3 linked regions of the Homo sapiens genome follow. The protein of the gene in region 1 interacts with the protein of each later gene in a pairwise test. Each region holds a gene or a part of one and is shown on either strand. Other genes may lie near its edges.

Region 1 (7,099 bases):
AGTCTGCATCTAAAATGAGGACTCTGGGCTGCTGGGCTCTGTGGTCTCGTTCTGTTGGCATTTTCTATGGTTCTAAGGTTTTAGGATCTTCCTTAGAAGTTGCTTTAACTAGTGCACATATTTATCGCCCATCACGCAAGGTGAAGACAAGACCACAGACCTTGACACTTGTGCTTGAGCGATGGGCACCGTATTCCAAGGGTGGGGTGGGGCAGGCTGCCTGGTGGGAACAGTATTTCTTCACCCTGTGTTCCCGCACATCTGGGGGCGATGGGGAGCAGCTGGCTGTTGATCTGATTACTGTGGTTAACGTCTCCCCAGACAGCACCTCCTAGCACGTACTTAGGAGGGGATATGTTCCTAGGACCTGCACACCCCTTCGCTCCCAAACCCTTTTCCTATGTCCCTCCAAGCCTGGCCGTCCTGCTGGGTTCCTGTCGCTGAGGAATAGATAAGAGGGGAACTAGGATACAGGCTGGTGATCCCTCCAGAGCAGTTCACGTGGGTTGGAGGTGGGGGACTGCCTAGTTCTAGCTCAGCCCCTCAGAGGGAAGGACCCAGCCGGCCATGCCTCCGTCTCGCCACGGGCCTTGAGAGAGGGGCTGTTAAAGCTTCCCGGCTGGGGAACAGCCTGGGGGACCCTGAGCTCCACTTGCCCTGTGAGGGTGGGGCTTCGGTTGTAAAGTCCACAGTGACACAGTTCTGCGGGTAACACCATTTAGCACTTAGTCCGCCCCCTCCTGGCCCCCTCGAGCTGCTCTTGCACCCCTGGGAGGCCAGTCCCAGATTGTACTGGTAAGCGCATTTCAGCTGCTGCTGATCTCTCTGTGGGTACAGGGCCCCTCCCTCCCTCCCTCTCTCCCTTCCTTCCTTCCTTCTTCTCTCTCCTTTCCTTCCCTTACTTTGCCCATCTTCACTTCTTCCTCCCCCCTTCTTATCATTTCTCCTGTTTTCTTCCCTTTTGGTGCGTTTCTCTGCTGGGGCAGCCTCAGAGGATTATAGACGCCTCTGTTTCTCCTCCTAACACCCGTGTGTGGGAGGAGCCCACTTCTGGGCGGGCATCTTGCATTGGAAAAGTGCAGTCAGCACGGTGGAAAATGTTGCTCATGGGCACACAGCTGCTCTCTTGGCGGGTGGTGGTATGTGGGGGGCTGGGCCACCACCCACCCTGTCCTTGGGGCCTTTACTATTTTATTATCTAGCGAATGTGTCTTATCTAATCTATCTAGCTTACCCATCCATCCATCCATCCAGTCCCAGGACAGCTGTATGGCTGGGCGGGGCTGCGCTTGCCAGGAAGCCCCAGGGCACATGGCCACAGGGAGGCTCATCCCAGCCTTGGGCCCACACAAGGGGATTGATCCTGTCCCTCCCCTTGGCTAGGAGTCTCCTCACATGTCTCTTCCCGGCAAGTCAGATGGTTTTCCTGCTAGAGGGTTCTTTGTACCTCTGGGGGTTCAGCTGATGCTCCCCAGGTTGTTTTAGCACCTGGGTGGCTCAAGTTTCGGGTTGGCTCCTGGGGAAGGTGAGGAAGCCAGGCACACAGCCTGGAGAGAAGGGTTGGGCCTCACTTGCAAGTTCCAGATGGGCTGCTTCTGAAGCCAGTTGAGGATTTTGCCCTGTGTGGGCCCTGGTATTCCCCTCTTCTGCACTTGGGGCTCCTGGGTATGTAGGGGGTGACTAGCAATTGAGGCCCAGGGCTTGCCACCCACACACCTGTGTGCTCACGTGACCTTTTCCACAGCCAGGAGAAGACAGCTCTAGGGTTGCCGTGGCCTGGGCCCACCTCGCCCCTGCCTTTGGTTCCTTCTGCACCCACCTTGCCCTTTGTGCCCTTCAGGTCTTGATCCACAAGCTGGACATTGGTGCCTCCCCATGTCCAGTGCATAGGAGCAGCGCAGCCACGATTCTCCCTTGCGTTCCTTCAGGTCACAGATAGGAACCTGCTGCTTCCAGGGACTGAGGACAGGAGAGAAAGGCCTCTGTGCTTTGCTCCAGGTGGCCGTGTGCTGCTGCCAGCCACTTGGTGCACTTGGTGCGGGGCCAGCTGCCCCAGGGCCTTACCTCCTGATTTCGGGGCTGGCCCTGGCTCTCCAGTGCTTACACTTAGGGCTCTAGCCACAGCCATTTAGGAATGTCATTGAGAGAGCCAAAGCCTGCGCGGGGATGTGTAGGGGGAGGGAACAGCTGTTTCTGGGCCTCTGGCAGCAGCAGCAACGCTGAACTTGTGGCTCGGAGGCTGGTGCGCTGTGGCTCATGCCTGTTGCCACTGCCATGCTCCCCGTTATTTGTTGCGTCACTTCCCCCCGCTCAGCAGATACCCCCACTTGTGAAAAGTTTCCAGACATCACGTGGTGGGAGGCCTTGGCGCCCTTCAAGGCCGACCTGTGCTGGTGTGAGGGGCGTGGCTTCCTCCGGACTCATCACAGCCCGACAGCCATGCATGGCCACAGCAGCTTCAGAGCTGCGGCAGTGATTCACCCCCCAAGATGCTGATGTCACAGGGGAGTGCCTGAGCCGGGGCAGAGCTGCCGAAACTGGGGGCGGAGAGCCCCAAAGTGTCCCTCTCACCTGCCCAGAAGCCGGGGAGCCAGCCCCGTGCAGACTCAGGCCTCAGAGAAGAGGAGGAGTAGGCAGAGAACTCACTACCCCTTAGCAGATCCTGGGCCAGGGCGTGACAGCCGTGCCCAGTTGAATCTGTCTAATGTGGCCCCAGACAGTGGGTGTTGATTTTTCTCTTCAAACATTCTGAAATGGGTTCTTTCTAGAAAAGAGGGCCCGCTTATTTTCCCTAGACAATTGCTGATGTTGACGCCCACTCTGGGTGGTGTTGGGGCGGGAGGGAGAGCTGTTTTAGATAGTTACTTAGTCACGGCTTGTGCGGTTCAAGACTGCTCGGCACTGGGCCATGGAATTTTCCTGAGCATTTTCACTTGTGGGATTTCCAGGCATTAAGTGAGGCCCTTGACAGAGAAGTTGTGGCCAGGTCAGCAGCTCTTGGGGTCAGGATCAAAGTTGTTTCTCCTGGGATGGCCACCAGGACACAGGTTTCTGGAGTCAGAAGACTCCGCAACTCTAGGTAGTTCCCATGAATCAGAAAGAGAGGGAGAGCTAGGCTTTGTCGGGGGATGGGGTACGTGCAGAGCCTGAGAGGGGCCGAGTTCTGCAACACTGGCTGATGAAACACCGTCTTGTCTTCACCTGTCCATGAGAGAATGAGAAAATAGGAAAGTTTTCTTAAAGACCAACATGTCCAATTGAAACATCTGTCCTTTATTCTGAGATTGTCATGCATTCTTTTTGTAACAAATGTTAAAGTGACCATGTCGTTTCATTTTTGAAATGATGACACATTTCAGTGTTCTGTATTTGTTCCCTTTTTTGGCTTTTTCATGTTATTATCAGGCTGAATACGGAGGCGGCTGCCTCGTGTTGGTGCCCCAGTGCTTTTTGGTTTGGGCCACTTTTCCTGGACAGTAAACCCAGGAATACAGGAGCCACCAGTTGGTTGAGTTTGGCTTGCAGGGGGTATCTGGACTGAACTGCCCTTTTGTGGCAGAAATGCCCTCACTTGTTTTAATTCTGTCTTCTCCATGGTGCTCGCCTGGGACTTTAGGAGTGACTGTTGAGCGTGTCTGACGTCCTTTCTCCGTGCTAACCCCAACGCCCTTTGGCTTTCTTCAGCCATGGACTTTCCCCAGCACAGCCAGCATGTCTTGGAACAGCTGAACCAGCAGCGGCAGCTGGGGCTTCTCTGTGACTGCACCTTTGTGGTGGACGGTGTTCACTTTAAGGCTCATAAAGCAGTGCTGGCGGCCTGCAGCGAGTACTTCAAGATGCTCTTCGTGGACCAGAAGGACGTGGTGCACCTGGACATCAGTAACGCGGCAGGTACCCCGTCAGGGCTGGGGCTGAGCTTGCTGATAGCCAGAAGCTATGGCCGGCCCTGTGCCATGCTAGGCCCTCCAGGGGCAGCACCTGCAGGCTGTGGGATGCAACAGGCCTCCCGCACAGGCTTCAGGCCATGAGCAATTCAGTACTAAGTTCCTCCCACCTTTTGGGGGCCTGTTTTGATTGGTAGTGGAGTGGTAAGGGGAGAACGGGCAGGAAGGGCTCATGATGAGCTCTAGGCCGCAGTGAACACAGGAAAGGCCTCATTGGGAGGGGCAGAGAGTAGGCAGGCTCTATGCCCTCTGGCCCCTTTCCGTGGCAGAGTCAGTCCTGAAGCATCTACCCCAGTGCTAACTAGAAGCGTGGGGAGAGGTGATGGGGAAGGCCTAGGGGCTGGGAGCAGTGTCAGGAAGACCTTGGGGTTGTGGAAGGAACTGGTCCTGGATTCAGACTCCCAACCCAGACTGACGTGACATGCCATGAGAAGGTATTATTCTCCCATTTTATAGATGTGGAAACTGAGACCCAAAGAGGTCAGTGACTGGCCTGGAGGTCAGTCAGATAGAGAGTTGGTAGCAGAGCCCTGATGAAAGTCAGGTTGGAGTGTCCTCCACTGGTGAAGTGTAGCGGCCAAATAAGAGGGTGTGGAGGGCAGGTGTTCACAACATCCGTCCTCAATGCAGGGTGGGCATTCACACCTCTGTCCTCATCCAGGGCAGGCATTCACACTCTGTCCTCCCTGCAGGATGGGCATTTATACCCCCGTCCTCTGTGCAGGGTGCATATTCACACCTCCTTTTCTCCATGCATGGGCGGCATTCACAGCCCATCCTCCTCCATGCAGGGCGGACAGTTGCACCTTCTGTTCCCTGTGCAGTGTGGGCATTCACACCTCCTGTCCTCTGTGCAGGGTGGGCGTTCACACCTTTTGTTCTCTGTGCAGGGCAGGCATTCAGACCCTCAGCGAGCACTTCTTTTCAAGGGCTGTTGGTAGTGCTGAGATCCCCCAGGTTACCTGCCTCCTCTCCACAGAGGAGATGGGGCGATGCAGGCTTGCCACTCAGCTGTTCCTAAATCCCTGCGTCCTGCTGCTGAGTGGAGTGGTGGGGCAGGCTGCCGGTGCCGGATCTTGAGGTGGGTCTGTGACAGCTGTCCTGTCCTTGGTAGGCCTGGGGCAGGTGCTGGAGTTTATGTACACGGCCAAGCTGAGCCTGAGCCCTGAGAACGTGGATGATGTGCTGGCCGTGGCCACTTTCCTCCAAATGCAGGACATCATCACGGCCTGCCATGCCCTCAAGTCACTTGCTGAGCCGGCTACCAGCCCTGGGGGAAATGCGGAGGCCTTGGCCACAGAAGGTAGGTTATTGGCAGCTGCTCCCAAGCAGATGGCCAGAGACCTTGGCTTTTGATGTGGGCTCTGCCTCTGACTTTCTGGGTCTCAGTTTCCTCATCTGGCCCTGCCTCGGTTGTGGGTGCTGGCAAGGGTTAGCCTCAGGTCTGAGGGTGGCCTCTCTGCCTGCCTTTCCCCTACAGAGCACCCGGGAGCCGTGCCTGGTTCAGTGCCTTTGCACACGGGCAGGCTCCTAAACCCTCCTGCGGGTCTGTTCTCCTGAGCCCCTCCTTCCACTTCCCTTAGCTGCTAAGATAAAAGCCCTCAGATGCCCACTATGGGCCAGGTGCCTTGCTGTAGACTTCCAGAGGCTGCGTTCCTCCCTTTCCTAGTGCTGACCTCTGATCAGCTCCCTTAGTGCACACATGGGGTCTGCATGTCCCACACAAGCAGGAACCATCACTGTTGTATTCCCAGTGCCCAGCCATCAGCCTGGCATGGAGTGGGTGCCCTGTGAATAATTTGGTGAATGAACAAATCAGCAAACCACTACTTAGAGGTACCCTAGGGAGGACGAGGAAGACCTAGCAAGTTCTGGGCCACCTCACACCTCCAGATGGCGGGCACTTGATGGGAAACGGCAGGTCTGCCCTGTTCCATCTCCAGGAGGGGACAAGAGAGCCAAAGAGGAGAAGGTGGCCACCAGCACGCTGAGCAGGCTGGAGCAGGCAGGACGCAGCACACCCATAGGCCCCAGCAGGGACCTCAAGGAGGAGCGCGGCGGTCAGGCCCAGAGTGCGGCCAGCGGTGAGTCAGATGCCAAGGACCCAGCCGGCTGTCCTGTCACCTCCCAGCAGCCTGGGCACAGGGTAGTGAGGGCTGCCTTGGGGCAGGTAGCACGGGCACCTGCACCTCTTGAGCCTGTGTTACCCAGAATGACCTATTGTGTGTTCCAGGGGGTCTGTTTCAACCAGAGCAGACACAACAGCCTTGGCTAGGGGTGTGCTGGGGCCTCCCCTCCTGGGTCACACGCAGCCACCACCAGCGCGCTGGTCCAGGAGAGGTATCCGACCCCTGGGCAGAGGGTAGCAATCCAGCCTCCGGTGCTTCCCCCACCCAGGTGCAGAGCAGACAGAGAAAGCCGATGCGCCCCGGGAGCCGCCGCCTGTGGAGCTCAAGCCAGACCCCACGAGTGGCATGGCTGCTGCAGAAGCTGAGGCCGCTTTGTCCGAGAGCTCGGAGCAAGGTAGCCCCGCCCAGCCAGGACCAGGCCCTACCTGGTGCATCCTCCCAGGGCCCTGCCTCCACTGCGCACTGGGGCCTCCCTCTCCTCCTGCCTCCAGCTAGTCCCACCTGGAGTCACCATGCACTTCAGCTTTGGGACACCTTGGTCTTCGCATGTTCTTGAGTCTCGAGGTCGTTCCTTGGTTGACCATGCTAGCCGTGTGTCTGTGAGCACAGGCACGTCCTTCAAAGCCCTGGAGCTTCTGCTGCTTCCCGGCTTTCAGCACCGTGCAGGGGTGCCTTGCCACCCACGGCAACCCTCCAGTGCCTGCTGGCCGACAGCGCCCACCCCAGCTGGCTAAGCCCCCTACCTGCATCCCGCAAGCAGCAAATACCCAGTTCACAGGCCCCCCCGGGGGCTTTCCTTGGCCAGTGCTGGGGCCATTTACTGTCCCTTCCACATGTTGCCGGCGCCCCTCACGTGCGCTCAGGCAGAGAGGGCTGCCGCCTCCATGCTTGCCCTTTTCTCCGCAGAAATGGAGGTGGAGCCCGCCCGGAAAGGGGAAGAGGAGCAAAAGGAGCAAGAGGAGCAAGAGGAGGAGGGCGCAGGGCCAGCTGAGGTCAAGGAGGAGGGTTCCCAGCTGGAGAACGGAG
Region 2 (7,000 bases), on another chromosome or scaffold:
TTGCCTTGCACATCTCTCTCCCCAACTTGGTTCTTCCCCACTCAGGCCCACACCCCTCTTTTGTTCATTTCTTCCCTGCTTTTTGTTTCAAACGCACATTCCCATCGTGACTGGGTCTTTCTCTGGAGTTGGTATGTGGTTGGTGGGCTACTCTCCACCCAGTTTGTGTTCATGAAATTGTCTGGTTCACTGTCCACTGATTACTCAAGGGTCTTTGTTGCTGAGAAGACAGAACACTACCAAGGAGCCTGGTTGTTAAGGAGTTTCCTTAGAAATGCTAAGCCCAGGCCAGGCGTGGTGGCTCACACCTGTAATCCCAGCACTTTGGGAGGCTGAGGTAGGTGGATCACTTGAGGCCAGGAGTTGGATACCAGCCTGGTCAACATAGTGAAACCCCGTCTCTACTAAAAATGCAAAAATTAGCCAGGCATGGTGGTGGGCACCTGTAATCCCAGCTACTCAGGAGGCTGAGGCATGAGAATCGCTTGAACCTGGTAGGCAGAGGTTGCAGTGAGCCAAGATCGCACCACTGCACTCCAGCCTGGGCGACAGAGCAACACTGTCTCAAAAAAAATAAAATAAAATAAAAAAAGAAGTGCTAAGCCGAATGTTTAGGAAGGAGAACCCAGGCCTCCATTCTCAGCACCGTATTCCCTTCAGGCACTTTACTTCCAAGAAAAATCTTCTGTGAGGCACACAATCACTAAAGAAAAGTAAGAGGCAAACTAGCTTTGAAAGCAAATCCCATCCCTCAGCCCTCAGCAGGTTGCACAACCTCTAACACACGTGGCCTCTCTGTTGGTGCAGGTGACAAGACCACCTTCCAGCTACAGGTTCGCCAGGTGGAGGACTATCCTGTGGACCTGTACTACCTGATGGACCTCTCCCTGTCCATGAAGGATGACTTGGACAATATCCGGAGCCTGGGCACCAAACTCGCGGAGGAGATGAGGAAGCTCACCAGCAACTTCCGGTTGGGATTTGGGTCTTTTGTTGATAAGGACATCTCTCCTTTCTCCTACACGGCACCGAGGTACCAGACCAATCCGTGCATTGGGTAAGTGACCAGTTGCCCTTCTGTTGGGTACTTAAGGGTGGGAGAATGGAGAAGCAGGAAAATTTAGCTCAAAGAAAGAATTAAGGAAGGCATGGTTAGGAGGGGTGGCCAGGCTTAGGCGTTTAATTTGATTAATGATAAGCATACATTCTCTCCTTTCCTGACGTGTGAAGAAGTGAGTGAACTGTCACAAGGTTGTAAAGATAAAATGATCACAACCCCTTGATTTTCCTGCCTGCCATGCACAGCACCATTTGCTCACATTAATAGAATTCAGAAAATGTCCTCAGGGAGTGATGGATCCAGATTATCAGGGAGGCAGCAGGCAGGGCAACTTAAACTTTCCCCTTGCTTGTAGTAACTGAGGTGCTTTGGGAGAAATGAATTCAAAATTTGTCCCTGTTGTTTTTCTATAAATAACTATAACTTATTTTCACATAATTAGATTAAAATCCTATTTTAAATGTAAGAATTTTTTTTTCAACATAAACACCTGAACTAGAAAAGATTTGACATATTATTAGAAAACAGGTGTCTCTAACTGCTGCCAGATTCTATAATAACAAAGTGTATAATGGCTCAAACTTGCTGGAAGTTTATTTCCTGCTCCTCAAGTCCAACTGGGTCTCTTCATCCATGGAACTTCTCCTGCAAGCAGTGACTCAGGGACTCAGGTGCTTTCCATCTTCCAGGCTTTACCATCTTCCACACATGGCTCCTAAGGTCATGCTGCCTAGAGGGTCATGCATAGGAGGATAGGCCTTTGCCATGCCCGCTCCCACATGCTATTAGACGGAACAGGACTGAGCCAGGAGGCTGGGAACTAGTGTAGCTGTAGGCCCAGGAATCAGAAGAAATAGGATTAGTGAGCAGGTCTCTGCCATGGGACGTTTGTATGCATGCTGGGGTGGGTGGTTGTATGAGGGGATTGCATTCTTCAGCCCATGCAACACAACCTCTACTAGGTTGGTTTCTTTTCTTTTTAGTCTTTCAGGAGTTTCTTTAAATGTCAAGATTATGCAAGTGACTGCAGTGAGTGGTAACTTCCAACTCTTGCTTTCCTCATCTCCACATTTAACTTTAGTGAGGGTTTGTGTTGTAAGGTCCAAAACTAGTCATGAGATAGGAAATAACTAAGACTTAAGTTTTTACTAAGTGTCAAGCCCCATACTAAATATTTTCTGTGGATTATCTCATTTAAATCTCATAACAATCTGTTGAGGTCTCTAAGGTAAGTGTAAGCCAGATTTTAGAGATGCAGAAACTGAGGCCTAGAGAGAATAACTTACCCAATATTATACAAACAGCAAGGGGTAGAGCTGGAATATGAATACAGACAAACTACTTTTAGAGTCTGCATTTGCATTTTTTTTTGAGACGGAGTCTTGCTCTGTTGCCCAGGCTGGAGTGCAGTGGTGCAATCTCGGCTCCCTGCAACCTCCGCCTCCCGGGTTCAAGCCGATTCTCCTGCCCCAGTCTCCTGAGTAGCTGAGATTATAGGTGCCTGCCACCACACCTGGCTGATTTTTGTATTTTTAGTAGAGATGGGGTTTCACCATGTTGGCCAGGCTGGTCTTGAACTCCTGACGTCAAGCGACCCATCCACCTCAGCCTCCCAAAGTGCTGGGATTACAGGCATGAGCCACTGCATCCGGCCTGCGTTTGCGTTTAATATAATGTCTTCTTCCCCATTCAAATCACACTACAACACAGACACTTTACCTTAGGCTGAGTAATAATACCTGTCCCTAAACCACCCTACCCCCATGTCCTAGGGGCTTACCTGAGGATCATGGTAGGTTATGCTGCAGTAACGTAGAGTCTCCAAATCTCAGTGGCTCAACACAATGAACGTTTTTTTTTTGTTGGTTTTTTTTTTTTTTGCTTGTGCAACATCTGATGAGGGCTGAGCTGCTTTCCTTGGCAGCTCTCCATGCAGTAACTCAGGGATCCAGCTCCTTCCATCTTGTGATGCCATTCTCAATTCTTGGTCTTCCAGCTGCCACCAAGGGGAGAGAGCTGTTCTTAAATCCCTGAGCCCTCCCCTCTCCACAAGTCCTCTTTGGTAGCCTTCAGAGCTCCTAGCTCCAAGTTGGGCTGGGTGATAGGAGCAAGTTAGTGTGCTGGTGGCATAGGCTCTTCTGAATCCCTCCAGATCCTTCTGTATACTCTCCCAGAAGCTGACTTAGATCTTTTCAGGTATTGGGAACTGACACTGGTGGAAAAACAGACAAGAAAAAGTTTTAAATACAAATGAACTCTAAATTCTTTAACCACGAAGAGGCACTAGGCATCATCATTTGCTGGGTTTAGCTTCCTCCTGGCGACAGGTGGCCACAGGGACTATTACTACTTTGATTCTGTCTCCAAGGCCCTTTTCAGCTAAGTCTGGGTGTCAAATGTTTTTGTTGAAATTTTGCTGCTTACCAGGAGCAACAGCATCTTAACTGCAAGCCTTAAGCCTTTTTTCAATTCATCTGAAATAGTGATTTTATTTGCTTCTTTTCACCTCTGTCCTAATTGGGCCCTGTCTCCAGACAGATAGGGTGTGTCCCCACTTTCATTCTTCCAAGGCCCTTCCACTGACCGAGACACTAGATTGGAAGCTGGCAGAGAATCAAGGGCTGGCTCTAGGCGCTCAGCATTTAAATATTCAAAGTTATGACACATCATTACTTATTCAGAGCTCACTCTCTAAGTCCTCTAAGGCAGAGCCTGTTGCAGACAGTAAAACTCCTGACAGTGAGTACAAGGCACACTGAAAAGCTACTTGTAAGGCAGGAAGTCCAGTGAAGAATGAGAATGTGGAAGGAAACCTCGGGCCTGAGTTATGTGAAGCTCTCTTCTCTGAGCTGGGGAGGCACACGCAGCGTGGGGGCACACTGTGGCTTGGTGAGCAGGCCGAGCTTTGTCTCCCCACGTCCAGGCAGCACGGCATCCTGTGTCTCCTGGGTTCAAGTGATTCTCCTGCCTCAGCCTCCTGAGTAGCTGGTATTACAGGCACGTGCCACCACACCCAGCTAATTTTTGTATTTTTTAGTAGAGATGGGGTTTCACCATGTTGGCCAGGCTGGTCTTGAGCTCCTGACCTCAGGTGATCCACCCACCTCAGCTTCCCAAAGTGCTGAGATTACAGGGGTGGGCCACCACGCCCAGCCTAAAGTATTTTAAATTATTCTGTTTCTGTTTCTTGAATTGTGGATCCTTCAGGTGGATCCACAGCCAGTCAGTGTATTGGACCTGCTGACATGCCTTCATGAATTGTTTTTCATGCAATTTATAAGCTTTTCATTAGCTCTTCCTTGGAGGTTGTGGGGGCATCCCTGCAGAGCAGTTTTATGTTTGCCGTTGTCGAGAATCTCCAGGTTCACCGTGGGACTAGTTTTTCTGTTAATTTTTCAAATGGAGATGTCTTCACCATAAAAGCAGTGTATTCCAATTGCTCAGGCCTGGAGTTACAGTTTTTATGGGTAATTCATCTCATTCATGGTAGATGGTCAGCTTCCGTGCTGCTTTCCTAGACCAGTAGCTGGAGTTTTTCTGTTTCTGGTTTTAGTAGCACAGCAGCTCATTGTGCTGTTCGGCTTTATGCAGACAGCCCTATTCCAGTGTTCAGCCCTCTGCAGGACTGAGGCTCAGCATCTATTCCTGGTAGACCCTGCTCCAAGCCTGTAGGGCCTCAGTCAAGGCCTGACCCATTGCGGGGGTCCTTGGCATGAGTGCCTGCCCATTTCCTACCTTTTTTTTTTGAGACCGAGTCTTGCTCTGTTACTCAGGCTGGAGTGCAGTGGCGGGATCTCAGCTCACTGCAACCTCCACCTCCTGGGTTCAAGTGATTATCCTGACTCAGCCTCCTGAGTAGCTGGGATTACAGGTGCCCACCACCATGCCCAGCTAATTTTTGTATTTTTAGTAGAGATGGCGTTTCACCACGTTGGCCAGGCTGGTCTTGAACTCCTGACCTCAGGTGATCTGCCTGCCTCAGCCTCCTAAAGTGCTGAGATTACAGGCGTGAGCCACTGCACCCAGCCCCCACCTATTCTTTTAAGTCCATTCATTTGTTTTTTGGTGTTTTCTTTTTTTTTTTTTTTTTTTTTTTTTTTGCCAAAACCAAATACTTCTGAAAGGTCCATTCATTTATTGAATGGTTTCCTCTTCGTTTCTGGGATTTACTTTCTAAGCTTCCAGCCTAGGCTATATATTAAAAAATTTTAAATTACATTTTATCCAGCAGTTGTATATGTTTAGAGTTAGAAGAAGCAGATAAGATGTTTTCATTCCTGTTCCATGACATGGAGAGCCTTTCCATGTCAGCTTGATCCATGATATTCTCCTGAGGCATTAGATTGTTTTCTGGATTTGCCTAGGTCTGGTGTCTTCAAATTGGATTCACTTTTTATACATACAGACACTCCCTTGGCTCTTTAACCATATATATTTTATTTTTTATCTCCCTTGTTAATAATCCTTAATTTAGTAACTCTGTATGCATGGCGCTTATTTGGGGTCTCACAGCACAGACACATGAGAGGGGTAGGATAGTCTCCTGGCATGACCCCAGAACGTCCGGATCTTCAGGCCACTCAGACAGCTGCTCTGGGGTTAAGTCAGATAACTCATCACAGGTGACATCCTATTCCAGTGTCAGTGGAGACTCTCCTAGCGTCTGTGTGACAAAGCTCTTTTCCTAAGTGACTCTGACTTGGTTATAGTAAATTCTCTACAATGAAGGCTTCTCTCTGGCAAACACATCTTCTAATTCCTAACTACTTAACAGTCATTCTTTGCAGTAAAAATGTATCTGCTCATTGCTGTTTGCGGGAGTGAAAGGGAGGAGGTAAAACATGCTGAGCTGTAGCTGAGTTTGTCACAGCTTTCCTGGTTAAACAGCAATCATTATTCAGTTTCTTTTCTCCCTGTCCGCAACCAACCGGACCAAGTGTAAAAAAACCACACACCTGAAGTCCTAAATCATGGGCCAGAGCCACATAGGCCAGGGCAGGATCTTGGAGGAAGAGAGAGGGGGAGAGTTTGGATAGACTTACTTCCTTCTGGGCCTATGATCCACTTGCCAAATAGCTACAGATGGGACCTCAGTTCCTTCTTCCAGCTGGGAATGTAATTTCCATGATTGTTCTTTTCATGACAAAATGAGGAGGTAATGGAAAGTTTGGGTGGCCCGAGGCTGAGGTTAAAAGAGAGTTCCACCTGTCCAAGTACAAGGTGTTCATGAAGACTTCGGGAAAGGAGAAGGGAGAAACACAAAGGAAAGCCAGGCAGGGAGATCCCATCGCTGCCGCCGGCCCCGAGAGGGAGAGCGCGACTATCACAGGAGTGGGGCTGATTGATTCTGTGCAGGGTGGGCCTGTTGCTGGGGACTCTGTGCTGTGCTGTTGTGACTGTGTGGATGGAGAAGGGACTGTAGCCCTGAGAGGGAATGGAATAGCCCCTTAGAGAACCAAAGATTGCCCCTTTACAGAAGGGAGCCTGCCCAGACCTGCCCTGGTGAGTCTGCTTTTTGACAGCATTTAAGGCAGGGTCCTCCTAGCTGTTGCTAAGGCTGTTTTCTTTCCCATGTATGCAGCTTGAATTAGATTATAAAGCCTTTCCCTCAGGCCTGTTAGTGCTCGTTTTCCATCATTTATCCTGAAAGAGCGACTTCCTTAACATGGCTGGAGACCCTGCACAGTCTGGCCCAGCCTGCCTCCCAGGCTCCTCCTCGCCCATCCTCACCCGTTACTCTGCACCACAGCCCCCCGACCTCCCTCTGTCCTTGGGCTCTGTGCTCCCTTCTGCCACAGGACTCTTGCACATGCTCTTCTCTGGCTGGGACACTCTCCCCTCTTCCCTTTACTTTGTGAACCCATTGGTAAAACAATATAAGCTCTCTCTTCCAACTTTATTAGTTCTAGATCAAGCTGAAACTCTTAGAGCTGTAATGGA
Region 3 (7,194 bases), on another chromosome or scaffold:
AGATGTATTTCATTTGGTGAATGGATTAAAAAACACGTAGATTAAAAAAACAGAATAGAGCCCCAACATAGACCTGCACACATACAATCAAGTGATTTATAACAAAAGCAATAAAGGTGAAAGTATAGTTGTTCCAACAATTGGTACATGAACAACTGGGTATCTAAACAAAAATAATAATAATAACCTAGACAAATCCTTAGGTATTTCACGAAATTAACTCAAAATACATCATAGACCTAATGCAAAATGCAAAAACTATACAACTTCTATAAGAAAACATGAGAAAATTTACATAACTTTGTTTGTTAAAGAGCTTTTAAATTAAACACCAAAAGCAAAAGTAGCAATGAGCACACCTAGCACCCAGAAGTAGATTTCTAGAACCATTTCCCATTAAAAGGAACCAGATATTTGGAGAAATGGCTTATTTATGACTGGGGCAGGGCATAAACCTGACGAGCCTGGGCCATTTTGCAGCCCTAGAAATTAAGGGCTAGAGAATATGATAAAGGACATTACAGTGTTGCAAATCCAGACTATGGAAAACTGGAAAGAACATAAGATATGTTTCTTTCCAACAACGAAGCGATGGCAAGAAAACAGATCATGTGGAGGGGACCTACAGGTGAGAGAAGATTTAATTACAAAAAATCACTATGTAATACTATTTTTGGGTACTCATCCAAATAAACAAATTTTTATAAAGTATAAGTCTTCTAGATAAGTGCATAAAACAGTTGAACATTTCATAATCATTTATTTATTTTTTAGAAATGAGAATTGTATTGGGTTTTTATTTGTAGTGATTGTGACCCAGAGGTGACTACAATCACGGGTGCTGCAGCCACCCAGGGAACACCTCGCCTGGTACCTGCAGCCATTCTCTGCGAGGGGTACAGCTGGGTACAATGTCCTTGTCTTTTAAAAATGAATATTGAATTATTTAGAGATGAAATGGTATGCTGTCTTTGATTTGATCCACATTATTCCAGCAGCTGAGATGCAGGTAGGTGAGTGTCTAACTGGAACCAGATTTGCCGTGTATTTAAGGTTGTTGATGCTGAGCGTCAGGTATGCTGGGTTCATTATGTTAGTCTCTCTATTATTCTATATGTGTGAGGCTTCCCTGATAAAAAAACGTTTTTTGTCATAAATATCATGCCATTAAAAATGAAATCCTAAATGATCCAACTATTTTGTAGAAATAAAATAAACAAATGACCAAATTGATCCAAAAAGAAAACTTCAATTAAACGACACAAACTGAAACTATACAATATTCAAAGCTCAAGCCATCCTCAAACGTCCCAGGTTAGTCGGTTTCGGAGGCTGATTCCACCAAATGATCAAGGAAAACTAACCATCATCTTATCTCAACTCTTCAAAGCACGCAAAATATAGACAATTCTTCAATTCATTCTCCCAGATTAACCCTTCTGGATTCAAAAATCAGATGAGGACCACCCCCCACTCCCGATGGAAAAAACACATAAACAAGCTCTCTTACATAGCAGCAAATATCTTATGTAAATTAGTAGAATATTAAATGAACAAACAAGCTCTACCCAAGGAAAGAAAATATGATTTAACATTAGAAAAAAAAGTTTCATTGTAATTTTTTACACACAAAATAGAGGAGAAAAAATTTATCACATCAATGGGTACAGGAAAAGCTTTTGGAAGAAATTCAATATGAGTTCATGGTAAAAATATTTAGTTAACCTATATTGAAAGAGAACATACATTTCCTAAAATCAACAGCAAACAAATTTAAGAAGTTCAAAGAATTATCATTAAAGGCAGGAACACGAAGTAGATGTAGGCTATTATCTCTACGTTTTAAATCATCATTGAGACACAAAGTCAGAGCTATAAGTATCATAATAAATAAGGGGCATGAATATAGGAAAAATACATAATGTTTAGTGATAATACCCTTATCATTCTTGAAAATTCAAAGAAAAAGGCATGTGGAATATTCAAGTCAATGGGTTTTCAGAATGAGGTGTACAACAGATTACTATAGCAAAATCAAATTCTCTGCCACACAATAGCAATAACTATTAGAGTTAATTAATTTCCATTAATTAGAACAATTAATAGAAAATATGCCATTTGCAATAGCAACAAAATCCAAGAATTACCAAAAAAGAAGCCTAAGAAAAATGTGTAAGGTCTTTCTAGAGGAAACTATCAAAGTATACTGACAGATTCAGGTAAAAGGAGTTTGAAATAAGTAAAGGAGCATAACCTATTCATTGATCAGGAGCAGAACATTGTAAAAATGTCAATTCTGCTTAAATGATTTACAATTTAGTGTCTTACCTGTAGCTGCCAAAAATTACAGTCACACTTAGGCTGCTGTTCTCTGGTTCCCAAATCAACTCTGGAAAATTATAGAAGAGAAAAAGAAAGAAAGAAAAAACAACAATATAAGCAATAAAATCTAAGCAACAAAACACAGAAAGTCCTGGGTGAGACTGAGGACTGTGTTGAACTGGTACTTATGTTTGGGGCGGTGTCAGTTGGAGGGGGGTTGGCTGCAGGGATGTTGAAGTCTATAGCCTGCCTAGACGTCAGATGACAGAATGAATAGGATGAACATTTTAAAATCTCCACCTCACTGCACTGCACAATCTGAGGCAGCACCTCAAAACACGATTCCAGTAACCCTAGGGTAATAGCAGGACAGCAGGAAAATTGGGTTGGTTAAGGCAGTATGGTTCCGGAGATCTGCTAATTACAACCTGAAACCAACTTAGTGGATGAGGATTAGCATTATTATTATTATTATTATTAATATTATTATTATTATTATTATTGAGACTGTCGCCCGGGCTGGAGTGCAATGACTCGATCTTGGCTCACTGCAACCTCCGCCTACCAGGTTCAAGCGATTCTCCTGCCTCAGCCTCCCAAGTAGCTGGGATTATAGGCGCCCACCACCACGCCCAGCTAATTTTTTAATTTTTTTTCTATATTTAGTGAAGACAGTGTTTCACCCTGTTGGCCAGGCTGGTCTCGAAAAGAATTATTTTAACAGAACATAAACAATGGAATAGAAGTTGAATAGGGTATCAGAGTGAATCATGCAAACTAAGGGTAGGTATTCTTTCATAGAAATAAATATATATGTTGCTACCTATATATATCCTTGGAAGATATGTAAAATATATTTCTTTGAGGAAAAAAGGTTTCCAAAGTCCAGCTCTGGCTGGGGAGGAGCCCCCGTGGGAAGGCGTGCATCTTCTCACAGAGGTCACTACAATAACGGGTGCTGCAGCCACCCAGGGAACACCTCGCCTGGTACCCGCAGCCATTTTCTGCAAGGGGTACAGCTGGGCAAATGCTCAGAGGTGAGAGAAAAAGAGCATCTCCAACCCATCACTTCAACAAAGAGCCAGGACCCAGGAAGAGGACCCTCCTGAGTGAAGACTGAGGGTAAACCCCCGCTCAAAGAGGGGCCACAGAATCCAGCTTAGTCCCTCCTGTCAGCCCTGGAAGACCCCAGCGGCTTTGTCGCCCAAGGACACCTCTCCCCCCACTGTGACCTCAGGGGACTAGGAGTCAGAACCTTGGTCTGAGGGGAGCAGACACCATCCGCAGAGAACAGGGGTCCAGGCTATGCCAGGAATCAAAGGACTGAGGGGCACGCCTACCTCAACCCCTAACCCCAGGACCTCTCGCCTCCTCCCCCACCCCAACTCCCACCCTGGCCGAATCCGGTTCCACCCCTGCTGTCAACCCAGGTGGCCCGGATGTGACATCCCTGACTTGCGCATTGGTCTGACCAGCAACTCGAGATCCACGGAGGGAAGCAGGCGCAGGCTCTGTGAGGAGGCAAGGTGGGGGCAGGCTGTGCCAGGCGTCAAAGTCAGGACCCTAAGAGAGAGCTGAGGGTTCCCCACCCCCATTCCTATCCCCCACCCCATTCCCATTCCCTTCCACACTCCTAACCCAATCCACACCCTCATCCCCTACCAGCACCCCATCCTCCCCAACCCCGTGCCACCCTCATACCCCCATCCCCAATTCAACCCCCGCACCCTCATCCCCCACCCCACACCTGCACCCCCACCCCCCAACACCCATACCCCCATCCAGGCAGGATCCCCGGTTCCGCCCCCGCTTTCAACCAAGGAAAGCCCCAGCTGCCCGGATGTGATGCCACTGACTTGCGCACTGGGGGTTAGAGACAAGCGAGCTTCTGCGTCTGACTCGCAGCTTGAGACTGGCGGAGGGAAGCCCGCCCAGGCTCTATAAGGAGACAAGGTGAGATGCTGAGGGAGGACTCAGGAGGACCCCCACCCCACATAGACGACCACAAAAAATCCAACACCACCCCTGCTGCCAGCCCTGGGCCACTCCTGGAGACTTCTCAGTCTGTGGTGGGGGGGCCACCACCCCACTGCCACTTAAGCCTCAGGGGATTCTGAAGTCAGAGCTTGGGGTGATCAGTGCAAGACTGGTGGGGGCAGGCTCTGCCAGGCATCAACCTCAGGACCCTAAAAGCCAGCTGAGCGTACCACACCGCTATTCCCATCCCGCAACCCCATTCCCATCCCCTAACCCCTTCCCATTCCCATTCGCACTCACAAACCCATCTACACTCCCATCCTCCACCAGCTCCCCATCCTCCCAAACACCCCACCACCTTCATACCGCCATCTCCCACCCCCAAAAACCCGCCCCCTCCACCGACCTCACCCCTCCCACCCCCATCCACGCTGAATCGGGTTGCGCTCCCTCTTTCAACCCAAGAAAGCCCCAGGGGCCCGGATGTGATGCCACTGACTTGCGCATTGGGGGTTAGAGAGAAGCGAGCTGCTCTGTCTGACCAGCAGCTTGGGATTGGCGGAGGGAAGCGGGCCAGGCCCTGTGAGGAGTCAAGGTGAGACGCTGAGGGAGGACTCAGGAGGCCCCCACCCCAGATAGATGACCCCAAATAATCCCGCACCACTCCTGCTACCAGCCGTGGGCCACCCGTGGGCGGACTTCTGAGTCTGGGGCGCCCACCACCCCACTGCCTCTGAAGTTGCAGGGGACTCTGGAGTCAGAGCTTGGGTTGATTAGTGTAAGACTAGTGAGGGCAGGCTCTGCCAGGCATGGACCTCAGCACCCTAAGAGAGGGCTAAGCGTACCCCACCCCTATTCCCATCCCCCACCACGTCCCCTTTCCGATTACCATTTGCACTCCCAAACCATCCACGCCCCCATCCCCCACCAGCACTCCTCTCCTCTTCAACCCCCCACCTCTCTCATACCGCCATCTCCCACCCCAACAACCCGGGCCCTTCTACCAACCTCACCCCTCCCACCCCCATCCACACTGAATCACGTTCCGCTTCCGCTTTCAACCCACCCCCAAAAACCCGCCCCCTCCATCGACCTCACCCCTCCCACCCCCATCCACGCTGAATCTGATTTCCGCTTCCTCTTTCAACCCAAGAAAGCCCCAGGGGCCCGGATGTGATGCCACTGACTTGCGCATTGGGGGTTAGAGAGAAGCGAGCTGCTCTGTCTGACCAGCAGCTTGGGATTGGCGGAGGGAAGCGGGCCAGGCCCTGTGAGGAGTCAAGGTGAGACGCTGAGGGAGGACTCAGGAGGCCCCCACCCCAGATAGACGACCCCAAATAATCCCGCACCACTCCTGCTACCAGCCGTGGGCCACCCGTGGGCGGACTTCTGAGTCTGGGGCGCCCTCCACCCCACTGCGTCTGAAGTCGCATGGGACTCTGGAGTCCGAGCTTGGGGTGGTTAGTGTAAGACTAGTGAGGGCAGGCTCTACGAGGCATCAACCTCAGGACCCTAAGAGAGGGCCAAGCGTACCCCACCCCTATTTCTATCCCCCACCGCCTCCCCTTTCCCATTACTATTTGCACTCCCAAACCCATCCGCGCCCCTATCCCCCACCAGCACTCCTATCCTCAACCCCGCACCTCTCTCACACCGCCATCTCCCACCCCAAAAACTGGGGCCCCTCCACCAACCTCACCCCTCCCACCCCCATGGATGCTGAATTGGGTTGCGCTTCCGCTTTCAACCCACCCCCAAAAACCCGCCCCCTCCACCGACCTCACCCCTCCCACCCCCTTCCACGCTGAATCGGGTTTCCGCTTCCGCTTTCAACCCAAGAAAGTCCCAGGTGCCCGGATGTGATGCCACTGACTTGCGCATTGGGGGTTAGAGAGAAGCGAGCTGCTCTGACCAGCCGCTTGGGATTGGCGGAGGGAAGCGGGCCAGGCCCTGTGAGGAGTCAAGGTGAGATGCTGAGGGAGGACTCAGGAGGCCCCCACCCCAGATAGACGACCCCAAATAATCCCGCACCACTCCTGCTACCAGCCGTGGGCCACCTGTGGGCGGACTTCTGAGTCTGGGGCGCCCACCACCCCACTGCCTCTGAAGTCGCAGAGGACTCTGGAGTCAGAGCTTAGGGTGTTTAGTGTAAGACTAGTGAGGCCAGGCTCTGCCAGGCATCAATCTCAGGACCGTAAGAGAGGGCTAAGCGTACCCCACCCCTATTCCCATCCCCCATCACGTCCCCTTTCCCATTACCATTTGCACTCCTAAACCCATCCGCGCCCCCATCCCCCACCAGCACTCCTCCTCGACCCCCCACCTCTGTCATACCGCCATCTGCCACCCCAAAAACCGGGGCCCCTCCACCAACCTCACCCCTCCCACCCCCATCCACGCTGAATCGGGTTCCGCTTCCGCTTTCAACCCACTCCCAAAAACCCGCCCCCTCCACCGACCTCCCCCCCACCCCCATCCACGCTGAATCGTGTTTCCGCTTCCGCTTTCAACCCAAGAAAGCCTCAGGGGCCCGGATGTGATGCCACTGACTTGCGCATTGGGGGTTAGAGAGAAGCGAGCTGCTGTCTGACCAGCAGCTTGGGATTGGTGGAAGGAAGCAGGCCAGGCCCTGTGAGGAGTCAAGGTGAGACGCTGAGGAGGACTCAGGAGGCCACCACCCCAGATAGACGACCCCAAATAATCCTGCACCACTCCTACCTGCCGTGGGCCACCTGTGGGCGGACTTCTGAGCTTGGGGCGCCCACCACCCCACTGCCTCTGAAGTCGCAGGGGACTCTGGAGTCAGAGCTTGGGGTGTTTAGTGTAAGACTAGTGAGGCCAGGCTCTGCCGGGCATCAATCTCAGGACCCTAAGAGAGGGCTAAGCGTACCCCAC

The links.
Region 2: the proteins of ZBTB17 (region 1) and ITGB5 interact in a two-hybrid assay, tested with the Homo sapiens proteins (one study listed by BioGRID).
Region 3: the proteins of ZBTB17 (region 1) and MAGEA4 interact in binary tests that used the Homo sapiens proteins (3 or more experiments, as listed by UniProt).

What each region holds. Positions count from the first base shown.
Region 1 is NC_000001.11:15,945,083-15,952,181, reverse strand, and holds part of ZBTB17 (zinc finger and BTB domain-containing protein 17), read left to right. Parts: intron 1-1,819; exon of another isoform or gene 1,820-2,251; intron 2,252-3,684; 5' UTR 3,685-3,686; coding exon 3,687-3,891; intron 3,892-5,058; coding exon 5,059-5,247; intron 5,248-5,865; coding exon of another isoform or gene 5,866-5,887; coding exon 5,888-6,028; intron 6,029-6,341; coding exon 6,342-6,467; intron 6,468-6,979; coding exon 6,980-7,099. UniProt on the Homo sapiens protein: Transcription factor that can function as an activator or repressor depending on its binding partners, and by targeting negative regulators of cell cycle progression.
Region 2 is NC_000003.12:124,842,366-124,849,365, reverse strand, and holds part of ITGB5 (integrin beta-5 isoform a precursor), read left to right. Parts: intron 1-807; coding exon 808-1,057; intron 1,058-7,000.
Region 3 is NC_000023.11:151,908,695-151,915,888, forward strand, and holds the start of MAGEA4 (melanoma-associated antigen 4), read left to right. Parts: upstream 1-4,194; 5' UTR 4,195-4,275; intron 4,276-6,815; exon of another isoform or gene 6,816-6,943; intron 6,944-7,194. UniProt on the Homo sapiens protein: Regulates cell proliferation through the inhibition of cell cycle arrest at the G1 phase. Also negatively regulates p53-mediated apoptosis.